Regions from separate parts of the Homo sapiens genome. Here region 2 is linked to region 1. Evidence: fine-mapped expression QTL. A gene starts in region 1. The other region holds a variant in brackets. All regions are shown on one strand. Distances are from middle to middle. Region 1 holds the start of TGFBR1 (transforming growth factor beta receptor 1). Region 2 overlaps COL15A1 (collagen type XV alpha 1 chain).

Evidence for each region. PIP is the estimated chance that this variant, and not a neighbour inherited with it, causes the effect. A credible set is the group of variants that fine-mapping cannot tell apart.
Region 2: its variant is the best candidate, but not a certain one, in a credible set for the expression of TGFBR1 in whole blood (TOPMed, PIP 0.82).

What each region holds. Positions count from the first base shown.
Region 1 is chr9:99,102,675-99,108,048 of GRCh38, reverse strand. TGFBR1 (transforming growth factor beta receptor 1) reads right to left here and starts at 2,936. Exons shown (of 9, transcript NM_004612.4): 1 at 2,747-2,936. The coding sequence starts at 2,843. RefSeq lists silencers at 2,209-2,718, 2,809-3,408.
Region 2 is chr9:99,042,235-99,047,608 of GRCh38, reverse strand. It overlaps COL15A1 (collagen type XV alpha 1 chain), which reads right to left. Exons shown (of 42, transcript NM_001855.5): 25 at 2,973-3,041; 26 at 2,839-2,874. Among named protein-coding and RNA genes, the nearest start is that of TGFBR1, 60 kb to the left of the region's middle. The variant G/A (reference allele first, on the strand shown) is at 2,428.

The DNA of each region.
Region 1 (5,374 bases):
TGGCATGAATCTTGTCCTCTGGGTACCTATAACGCATTCAAGTAGAGTTAAGTAGCAGCACAGGCAGTAGAAATGGACAACACAAACTGTTAAGTGTTGCAGAGTTCTGGAAGACAAAGAATTCAAGAACTAAACCAGCACAGGAAGTCAGGGCTGAGAACTTCTCGCACTCCCAAAAAAAGGGGCAAAACTAAATGTGTAGTGAAAAGGCTGAACAGTCAGGAGTCAGTGAGAAAGAGAAATTGCTCGAAGGTCTGCAGTAATGAGAAATGAGATCCCTGGTAGGATACTCAGAGATGGCCCCAATCATAAGCTGCTAAGTGTTGTTCTAAGTGCTGAATACAAATGGGAAATCTTATAAACCTTCACGGGGAAGGCTGAGGAAGATTAGTTTGGCAGTAGCCATAGAAAAGCCTAGATGAGAAAAACATGGGAAAGCAACTAGATTTGGAGGATAACAGGCAGGATTAAGCTGAAGGCTGCATACCAAGAAAGGAGGAGACATTCAAGAGGCATTCATAGAAGAGTTGGATTGGGGGCACGTTTTCAAAGAAAAAAAGTTATGAAATGGCAGAAAGGAAGCAAATAGCATTCTCAGATGGGATATACATATAGACATAGTGGTACTAAACTGTGCACTAGGGATAAGGAATCAATTTCCCTAGAGAAACCTATGTTGGAGACAGAAGTTGGGCAGAGAACATTAAAACATACTCAGAACATAAAAAGGTGCAAGTCTTTAAAAGGGAAGCCAAGTTACAGAGGAAATAAAAAGCATTTGACCTTTTTCAGAATGTTTTTTAAGGGTGGACTGAGGCATCATCATAACCAACAGGGGAGGCAGACAAGCTGAGGCAGTCTGGGCTTAGAGTAATAAGCACCTGGACAGCTTTGTATTTTGTGCATACCATGGAGACTGTAAACTCCTCCAGGACATGGACTGAGCAATGTTCTGTGTCTTCAACTAAGTCCACTACTGTTACTTGAATACATGAACGCTTCTTGTGCTACTTCTGGTGGAAAAGAGTGCACTGTGTTATTCAAGTTAATAGCGGTGTGGAAATGTTACCTGTGTTTCATGCCTAACTATACTGATTCTCCCAAATGTCCACACAGTTATCCTGCCTTCCTCCCTAGGCCAATGTCAAAAATCCATTGTTTCCTCTAATGCAGGCCCACGTGAAGGGACTCAACAATGTGCTAAGAGTCGGAATGAAGCCTATCTGATACTCAAATCATGAGGACAGAATCCAAAGTGGATAATAAAGACCAATTGCTCATCAGACGACTGAAGAAGAAAAATGGGCTACGCCAGATAGTATGATGTATACATATTTATATATATATATGACATACAGGTTTGGGAAACTGAGATCTGAGTGAAAATCCTAGCTTTAGCACTTAAGTTATTGGGTACTTAACGTGTCTGTACCCCACTTTGCACATCTGTAAAGTGGGGCAAATGCCACTACTCCTGGGAGTTTACTTGTGGTGATTAAATAATGTAATTATACAATAGTGTATGCATTTACATCGTAGTAATGCACAATACATAGACGGTAGCTATTAGGACTGATTATAATCGTCACCGTCAGTCTTGATTTTTTAAAAAAATTTCAACATCTTTTGTCCAGTTTCAGAAACAGAAATGTACTTTCACTGCATTTTAGTTGCTAACACTGAGGCTGTGTATTTTAGCTTCTAGTGTCTCAGTTCAGCTGCTAACGAAGTTTTTCACTCATCCCTTTGTGGATACCAACCACCTACCCCAACCTGATTTACTATTTTGAAAAATCCAGCCAACAGTCTTCCTTGAAAACCAGCTATACAGATGTCTGAATCAAACTATTAACTGTCACTCAAGAAAAGGAACAACGTGAGTGATGTTCCTTCGAGGAAATAAAAAGCGTTTAATCAATTCACAGTCGTTCCCAAAATTTCCAAAACCCGCAGAATGAGCAAACGTTCAAGTTTCCACTATGAAAACAATCCGTAGCCGTCTGGTTACTGGACTCACTTCAACACTCCCCAGACGCACGAAAGAAGAAACATTCCGCGCATCTCCGCGCTTCCTTCTTCTCACACAAAGCCCCCCTGGCTGGAGGAGCAGCCCCTTCCAGCAGGGTCGGCTCGGGTCGAGCCGGGCGGGAGTCAGGGCGGCCTGCGGACCCAGGGGTCTCACCACACGTCGCCCCCGACTCCCACTGGACGAAGCCCTAGAGGCTCGGAGCTCACACCCCGCCCGGGAGCCGCCTTCCACCCCAACCTCAAACCCCGCCCCGGGTTCGGCAGCCTCTGGCACGGACCCTCTTGGGGCGGGGGTCCCCAGAACAAGGTCACGCCGTGCCCAGGGGGCGGCGGCGGGCAGCCACGGCTCTGCCAGTCCCCGCCGGCCTCGCACTCTCCGCCCCTGGCCCTCGCCCACTCACACCCCAGAGGGCAGCCCCGGACCTCGGACGACTCCGCCCGACTCCACCTCCCCGGGGAGTCCCGAGCGGGGCGGCCTCGGGCAGCCGGACACGTCCGCCCGCGCCCGGACACACGCCCCTGCCCCGCCTCCGCTCCCCGCTTGCGGTTCGCCCGGCAGCCGCCGAGCCGCGCGGCGCCACGAGAGCCCGGCCCGGGCCCCGGCGCCGCCACCTGCGCCCCCGGCCCCGCGCCATGTTTGAGAAAGAGCAGGAGCGAGCCAGAGGCCGGGTCCGGCCCGCGCGCCCCGCAGTCGCCCGCCCGCCGCGCCGCCGCTCACCCGTCGCCCCCGGGAGCAGCGCCGCCGCCGCCGCCGCCGCCGCCGCCAGCACGAGGAGGAGCAGCCGGGGACGCGGAGCAGCGACCGCCGCCTCCATGGTCCCGCCGCCACCGCCTGTGGCCCGGCCCGGCCCGGCCGCGCCGCTGCCTCACCCCAGCAAACCTCGCCTCGCCCCACCTCCCTAGCCGCCGCGGCGGCCTCGCTCCGGCCCTTTGTAACTGCTCGGAGGACGCGCGTCCATTGGCTGCCGGGCTCCCGCCGGCCCCGCCTCCCCGCCGCCGCGAGCTGCCAAGCGGGACCCAGCCGGGAGCCCCGCCTGCGGGCCCGCCAGGCAGCCAATCCGCAGCCGCGAGCGCCGGTTTCTGGCCACGCCCCACGCTCCCCGGGGGCTGGGCCGCCAGACCCCAGCCCCGGCCCGATCGGCTCCCGGCTCCGAGAGGCCGCGTGGGGGCGGGGTCTGCCAGCCCCAGCACCGCTCAGCCGCTAGCCCCGGAGGGCCGGGTAGAGCGATGGGTGTGTCTGTGTGAGTCTCTTTCGGAAAAAGGCTGTGGCCGTTCGACGCTCTTTTCTTCTAACCTCCTCTAGGCGCGGAAGATCTGGTACTGCCTCAGCCCCACCCTGACCCCATTCACAGCTCCGCATTGGCAATCCCAGCACATGCCACCCAGATCCGCTGCAGCGCCAGGCCCCTGCATCCACTTCAACTTCCCCTCTCCAAGTCCACGCATCAACTTCAGCATTCCCCCGAAGATCCCTCCTCAGTGCCCTTCACATGCGACTCACTCTCCTATTTCCTCCTGCTCCCAGCGGTCACCCCAAACCCAGCTCCCCCACCCAGTTCCAAACCCAGAAAGTCCTCAGATCCCAGCGTCAGACCCAGATCCTGAGCCCAAACACACCCCCAAATAGCCTCCCGCCTCCCTCCAGCACAGATCCAGGATGGGGATCCAAGCCGCACTCCTCTCAAACCCCTTCCCGATCCAGGTTGGAAAGGGAGGATCCCCACCCCAACCCCTCAAAGGAGGGGTTCCCCCTTCTTAGCACCCAGCTCCCGCGGGGCGGAGGGGGAGCAGTCATCATTACTTTGAGCTGTGTCTGACACTGCTGTATAATAATCCTGAGGTGTCACTAAAAACCCAAATAAACTCTACGTTTTCATTCTGAATTCCTAATTTACTGCGAGACGCTCCACCCACCTTCCCTCTGCGACGCCAAAATGAGCTCCAGATTTGTAATTCTTCCTGTCAGACTAGTCCTTTCTTCAGACACAAACACAGCCAAGGAGGCTGTTACGTAGAACAGAGAATATTTTTCCGCAGAACCTTTTAAGGAGGAAATTTTATTTTCTGTGTCATTTGAGCTTAGAATTAAATAAACCTTGATAGCAGGAATCAGAATGGTTCTGATTAATGCCAATTTGTGCACTACTTTAGAGTCACTGGGTGAGCATTTTCCCCACCTGTGAAGGCTTCCTTCCGGGAGATGAAAAGGGAAAAGGCGTGGATATTGGAGCTGGGATCTGAGACCCGCGCGCTTTCTCCCTCCTGTCTAGGACACTTACTTAAGCAAGTCAGCTAACCTTTCTGAACCTCCAACAGGCTCAGAGGCCTGCAACTTGCTCTACACCGCAGCTCCAGCAGCCTCAGCAGCAAACTCCCCTCTTGCTCAGGCTGAGGGATTCCAGAGAGATGGCTTCTGGCAGGCTCCAGTCCCAATTTGCCCTCTCAGTTCCAGTTTCTTCAATGGAGATTTGGTGGACTTTGTGCCACCTGAGGTCCCTAGACTGCCTTTTTGCTGCTCTATTTGCAATGTCTTTCATAAGATAAGAGCTAATGAGATTTTTATTGTATGAATGAATGAATGATCTCAGAAAGTGACTGTTTTTCTCTGGCCATTAGCTTCTTCATCTCTAAAATGTAAATAATAATAGTACCTACCCCGTTTATAAATAAAAGGGATTGAATCACTTGTCTTGGGCCCCTTAAATGACGTAATGTGTCTGGTACAGTGTCTGGAACATAGTAAATATTTAGCTAATGCCATTTCTTTGCCCATCCCCTTCCAGCTCTGTATGATTCTAATCAGCATGTATGTTCATGTCAGTCTGTGCCTTTGACGTACGGAGCCTAGATTAATCAGTGTTAATCACACCTCCAGTTCCTTAACATTTTCCGTGGAATTCAGTGGATACAATAGGAAGGAAAAACAGACTATTTTTAAGTTGTATCTTCCTGATACTAGGAGGAAATTTCCATGAGCCACAGATCCATAAATAAACTACACTAGAATGGAACACTAAATTATTAGTTTAAAATCATGGTTCCCAAATTGTAAAGTCTCTCCAATTACCTGGAGAGCTTGTAATAATACAGATTCCTGGGTCTCCCTCGGCCCTAGCAAGTCTGCTTCAGTTCATGTGGAGAAGGTTCAGGAATCTGCATTTGTAATAGACATCCCAGGTGATTCTGCTGCAAGTGGCACTGGGCCCGCTTCAAAAGACACTGCTTTACTTAAAATTCAGTAAATAAAAATGCATGACCTTATTTGCCTTTTGAGAAAGGTTGGATGGGCAGTAGAAAGAAGCCTCTGGCTTTGGAGGCCTACAGACCCGACTTGAAATTCTGGCTG
Region 2 (5,374 bases), 60 kb after region 1:
TCTCAGCTAGAAGCACCTGCTCAACCCACACCATCCCCTGCTTTCCTGCAGGCTCCAACCCACCCCAGACTCTGGACCCAGCCCCTCGCAGTCAGGGTTAACTAAGGAGCAAGAGGTCAGTAGCTCAGGGCCTCAGCTCCCTGGTAGCCAGGTGCTGGGCCAGCCCAGAACATGGACCTCTGCCCTAGGTCTTATGTCCCAGGGCTTATCGCATCCCCCATTCTGAATAACGCAGCCCTGCCTCGCCCCTCAGGCCAGCCTGGCCTGATAACCCACTCTAGGATTTGGTTCCTTCCTTGCTCTAACCTGCCCCTAGGAACCAGAGTCTTGGTCTGACACCCCAGTCATCCAGCTGAGTTCCAGACCATGGACCCTATTTCAGTGCTGGCTTTCCAGGACCACAGGCTTCTAGAACCACTGTTCTGTTGCAACCTTCAGGAACCCTCCTGCCTTCTAATGTCTGGGATGTAAACTACTTGGTTGACAGACAACACCACTGATGATGTATGTCTTCCTAGAACAAATTCTACCCTCAGTCTGCGCCTTTCCAACCCTGTAGCTGGGTCTGCTGTGTCTCCCAGAAGAATGACTGATTTAAGCCTGGGGCACTCCAAGTCCCTTTTCATCCTACCATAAACATACATAGCCATGCTCTGAAAAATGACAAACAAAAACTGAGTTGAAACAGGGTCAGTACGTAAAGTACCCAGTCTGTATTACTCTTAGGGAAAGAAAAGCAAAGACAGATGGGGTTGACAGGGCACAGGCCACTTGGTTGGTATGTTCTAGTGCAACACTTCCTGATATGGTTTGGCTTTGTGTGCCCACCCAAATCTCTTCTTGAATTGTAATTCCACAACCCCCGCATGTCATGGGAGGGACGTGGTGGGAGGTAATCGAATCATGGAGGCAGATTTCCCCATGCTGTTCTCATAACAGTGAATGAGTTCTCCCTAGCTCTGATGGTTTTGTAAGTGTCTGGCATTTCCCCTGCTGGCACTTATTCTCTCTCCTGCTGCCCTGTGATGAGATGCCTCCCACCACAATTGTAAGTTTCCTAAGGCCTCCTAGCCATGCGGAACTAGGAGTCAATTAAACCTCTTTTCTTTGTAAATTATCTAGTCTTGGTATTTCTTCATAGCAGCGTGAGAATGGACTAATACACTTCCCAAACATCAATGTGTGTTAAGAATCACCTGGATCTTGTTAAAAATGCAGATCCAGTATGTCTTGGGTGGGGCCTGAGGTTCTACAGTTCTAAGAAGCTCCCAAGTGATGTCAGTGATGCTGGTGCATGGTCTACACTTTGTGTAACAGGACACCAGTGAATTTGAGAAGGCGTTATAAGCTACACTGGTCACTAGGGCCACAGCTAGCCCACACAGCACCTTCATGCAAATTAGAAGAAGGTGCCACTTACTGCCTGTGTTTGGCAAGCTGTGTCCAAGCTGGGCTTCAGTAGGAACCACCGCCATGGCATCTGCAGCAGCCTGCTGACCCCCACCACTAACTATTTGTATTTTCCACAGTATTGGAGGTTAGTAGGTGGTTAACCAGTAGTTAATACAAGAATCTCTCAGTCTGTCTTAGCTACCTGACTTTGGGTGTCCACTCTTCTTAACTTCAGGGACCAAAGGCCTCAGAAGGTCTTTTGAAGGATTCACCTCGAAAGTTACAGGCCATTCTTCAAGGATACAAGTCTGTTACAGAAATGTGAGGTCCTTTCTCCCCACACCTGAGATCCAACTTCAACCAAACAAACCTGTATACAATTCTCTAGCCCAAAATGTTTCAAATGTTCAATGTTTCAAATGTTCATTAGAGGCAGTGAGGTTCATCTGAGAAGAGACTGGACCTAAAGCCTGACTGGCTGGCCTCAAATCCCCACTCTGCCACTTACAAGCTGTGTCACATGGGCAGGTTACTTAACCTCCTTGGGCCTTAGTTTCCTCATCTATAAAATGGGGATTCTGAGAGTCACTTCTTGGGGTTGTGAAGATGAAATGAGATGACCTATGTGAAGCATCAGTACAGTCTGACCCATAGAGAATGTTCTACACAGGGAAGTAAGTTTAGGGTTCGCCCTTGAGAGAAATGGCAAGAGCTGCTCAGAAGCCCAGATGGGTTATGGATTCCCAGAGCCGTAAGGCCAGAAGGGCCCTAATATCATTTAGTACTAATTCAGTCTCTTCAATGTGCAGATGGGAAAACAGGAGCCCAGAGAGAGAAGAGGGCTTGCACAAGGTCTCACAGCAAATGAGTGGCATATTCACAACCAGAATCAAAAATCCCAGAGAGGTTTTGTGGGGTTCCTTTGAGGGTTTCCTGGGAAATTGGTCATCTTTAGCTGGCAAGTTCTGTGGTATAACTGCAAGTGCACCTCTCCTTCCTGGACACACAGCTAAACTACATTTTGAGGCCACAAGC[G/A]TCTGGGTTTTGGCTTACAGAATGTGCCAGAAGTGATGTTTATTATCTTTCACAATCTCTTCCCCCTCCCCAACTTCAGCCTGCTAGCTCCTGTGCGACCTTGAATCCACAAGATGGCAGAATCACAGAATGGAAGCATCCTGGATCCCTGAGTCACTTCTTGGAGGAGAGATGCCAAGCTGAGAACAACCACAGTGGAATTTGCAAGAGCGAGAAATAAGCTGCTATTGTGTTAAATCACTGAAAAGTTTATTTAATTGTAGTCAGCCTTACCCTAGTATATGCACATTTTGCACATCTTTGCCACATCTTTGAATTTTCATAACCGGGACAACTAAATCTAACCAAATCAAAGTATGAAAAATGCTTCAAACCCCAGCCCAGATCCAGCTGAGAGACGCTCTGACTTACCATTGGTCCTGGGGCTCCATGCATTCCAGGTTCACCCTAAAACAGGAAGATATATACTTGTCACTGTTTGGGACAGAAACAAAGATGCAAAGCTGGGGCAGATATGTGCCTGCAGGGTCTGGTGACATAATTACCTTTTTCCCCATCAGCCTTTCCAGAGGAATGTCCTCTGTCAGGATGGCACCCGGCTCTCCCTTCTCGCCCTGCAATTCAGAGAACATCTCAATGAAGTCAGGACTCCTCCTTGCCACCTTGTCCAGAGAGTTTTGTACAGAGACTCCTCCTTGCCACCTTGTACAGAGACCTCTGAGTCCTGCAGCCATGATTTATTTCTCTTGCCTTCATCCTACTTGAAACCCCACTGCTCCAAAATTACCTCGTACTAGAGTATTGCAACAGCCTCCTAAATGAATGAATGTTCTCTCAGCCATTCCCTCTATGCACCATCAGAGTTACCGTCCTAAGGCACAGGACAGTCCTGTCTTCCATGCCCCTTCAGGCTCCCACTGATAACAGATTTGCATCCTCACTCTCAACCCTCCAGGATCCAGCCCCAGTGTGGTCCTGTCTATCTCCTGCCACATGGTGCCCTCAAGGAAGCTCTGGCTCCCAATGTATTTGACAGCTTGCTTTCCTAGCAACTCAACCTGAGATCTGTTCCCACCAAGAATACTTATTCTTGTTAAAACACCTGAAATTAGGAAAGAGATGACGGTATAAAAACTAGAGGCCTCTGTCAACATGGAGGCCTTATGTCTCCATATGCAACGTTGCCTCCAAACTCTAAGCTCCTGTGCAAACACTTACTTAGTTAGGCAAAGCTATCCCAGACATTAGGAATGAGTGATGGGTAGACTGGTGGCAAGAACACAGGATCCTGACCCCAATCCTGTCCTCAGCAGAGACATCTACTATGCTAGAGGCTGCTGAGAAGATGATTGTCAAGAGAACAAGACTGGGTGCAGAAACCTTCTATCTGACTCTGAGGCTTTGGCCCTAAACTTCAATGCTGGCCCCTGGGGAGCAGGGCTGAGCCACACAGAAGTCTCTTTTCAATGGGGCTGGGAGTAGCTAGGACAGTAGCATCAAAGCAAGCAGAGCAGCCTCTTTCTTCCATCCCCCTAAGCCCACACCTGGTATTTAGATCTTACCACTCCACTGATGAGGAAAGGTAGTCCTGAGCACGCCAGCAGGGAGAAGAAGCAAGCACAAAAGCATTAGAGGCAGAGTGAGAGAAAGCACGTTCACTGCAATGGCCAGAGCAGAACTGCCCGGCTGCCTGGACCAGTCATTCAAGGTGGCAGGAGGTTAGGGCGGGGATGTCATGTCCGTCCCTCTAGATCCATCTGACCTTACCACATAGGAAACAGAGTGTTTAAACAGAGTGTTTAAAGCAAGAGGTGCTCTTGCTTCCCTGGGCCTCCTCCCAAGCCTGAGCTGGCCAGCCCTGGTCCATCTCCACAGGCCTGTGGCAGGAAAAGCATCCCAAGACACATCCCCACGTGATGCCAAACCTTCACCCAGCATACCGAGCCCTCCATGCCCTGGAGCAGTGGCCCACTAGATATTGGAGGCCCTCTCCTCCTTGGAGACCATTATATTATAGAATGATGGGGGGAGAGAAGAACGAGAGGAGTTCCCCCATCCCACAGAGCACACCCACCCTCCTTGACTCCCCATGGCAGGCTCAGGGGGTTGCACAGTGCTCCCACTGGCTTTGCACAGAGCTCCATTCCAGCTGTAAGCATGTGCTCTGTTAGCTCTTTGCATATCTCTTCCTCATCTTATTTCTATATCCCTACGCCTAGCACAGGAAACTGCCTGGCACACCACACGGGTCAGTGGACGAAAGATGGATGAGTATATACATGGACGAGTGAATATATTAATCTGTTTATGGACGTCACTCTCCCCCTTATCTATAAAAACCAACTGGAAAGTTAATTCTAAGAGGCAAACACAAAAGAATACAAGCACAACAATAGGTTTGGTACCCTGGGAGTTCTCAGGAAGTGTTCTGTGTGCTAAGTATTTATTCCAGAGACTTTGGACCAAGACTGTTGTTCAACTGCAGAATGCTCAATTTATAATTTATAAATATTAACATTTGTTCTACTCATTAATTATACATGCTTTCGTCCAACAAGTGTATTCAGTACCATTTGTATACCAGGCCCCATATTAGTATTGGAGCTATGGAAAAGAAGCTGGCAGGATGCCTGTCCTCAGGCAGTGCATGTTCTAAGGGGGATGCCCAGCAGGTGGTTAGACAAAGCACAGTGTGTGTGAGAACAAAGGAGTGTTGAGTTGAGTTCTCTTTCCAAATTATGGTAAAAATCAATTTCACTACCCACTTCGTACCTTCTCGTCTCATAGAGAACCTGGAGATTAAAAAAGTTAACAGCTGGAGAGTGACCGCTAATAAGTATGGGGTTTCTTTCTGGTATGATGAAAATGTTCTAGAATTACAGAGTGGTTCATGAGGTTGTACAACCTTATGAGCCCACCAAAAATCACTGAATTGTACAATTTAAAG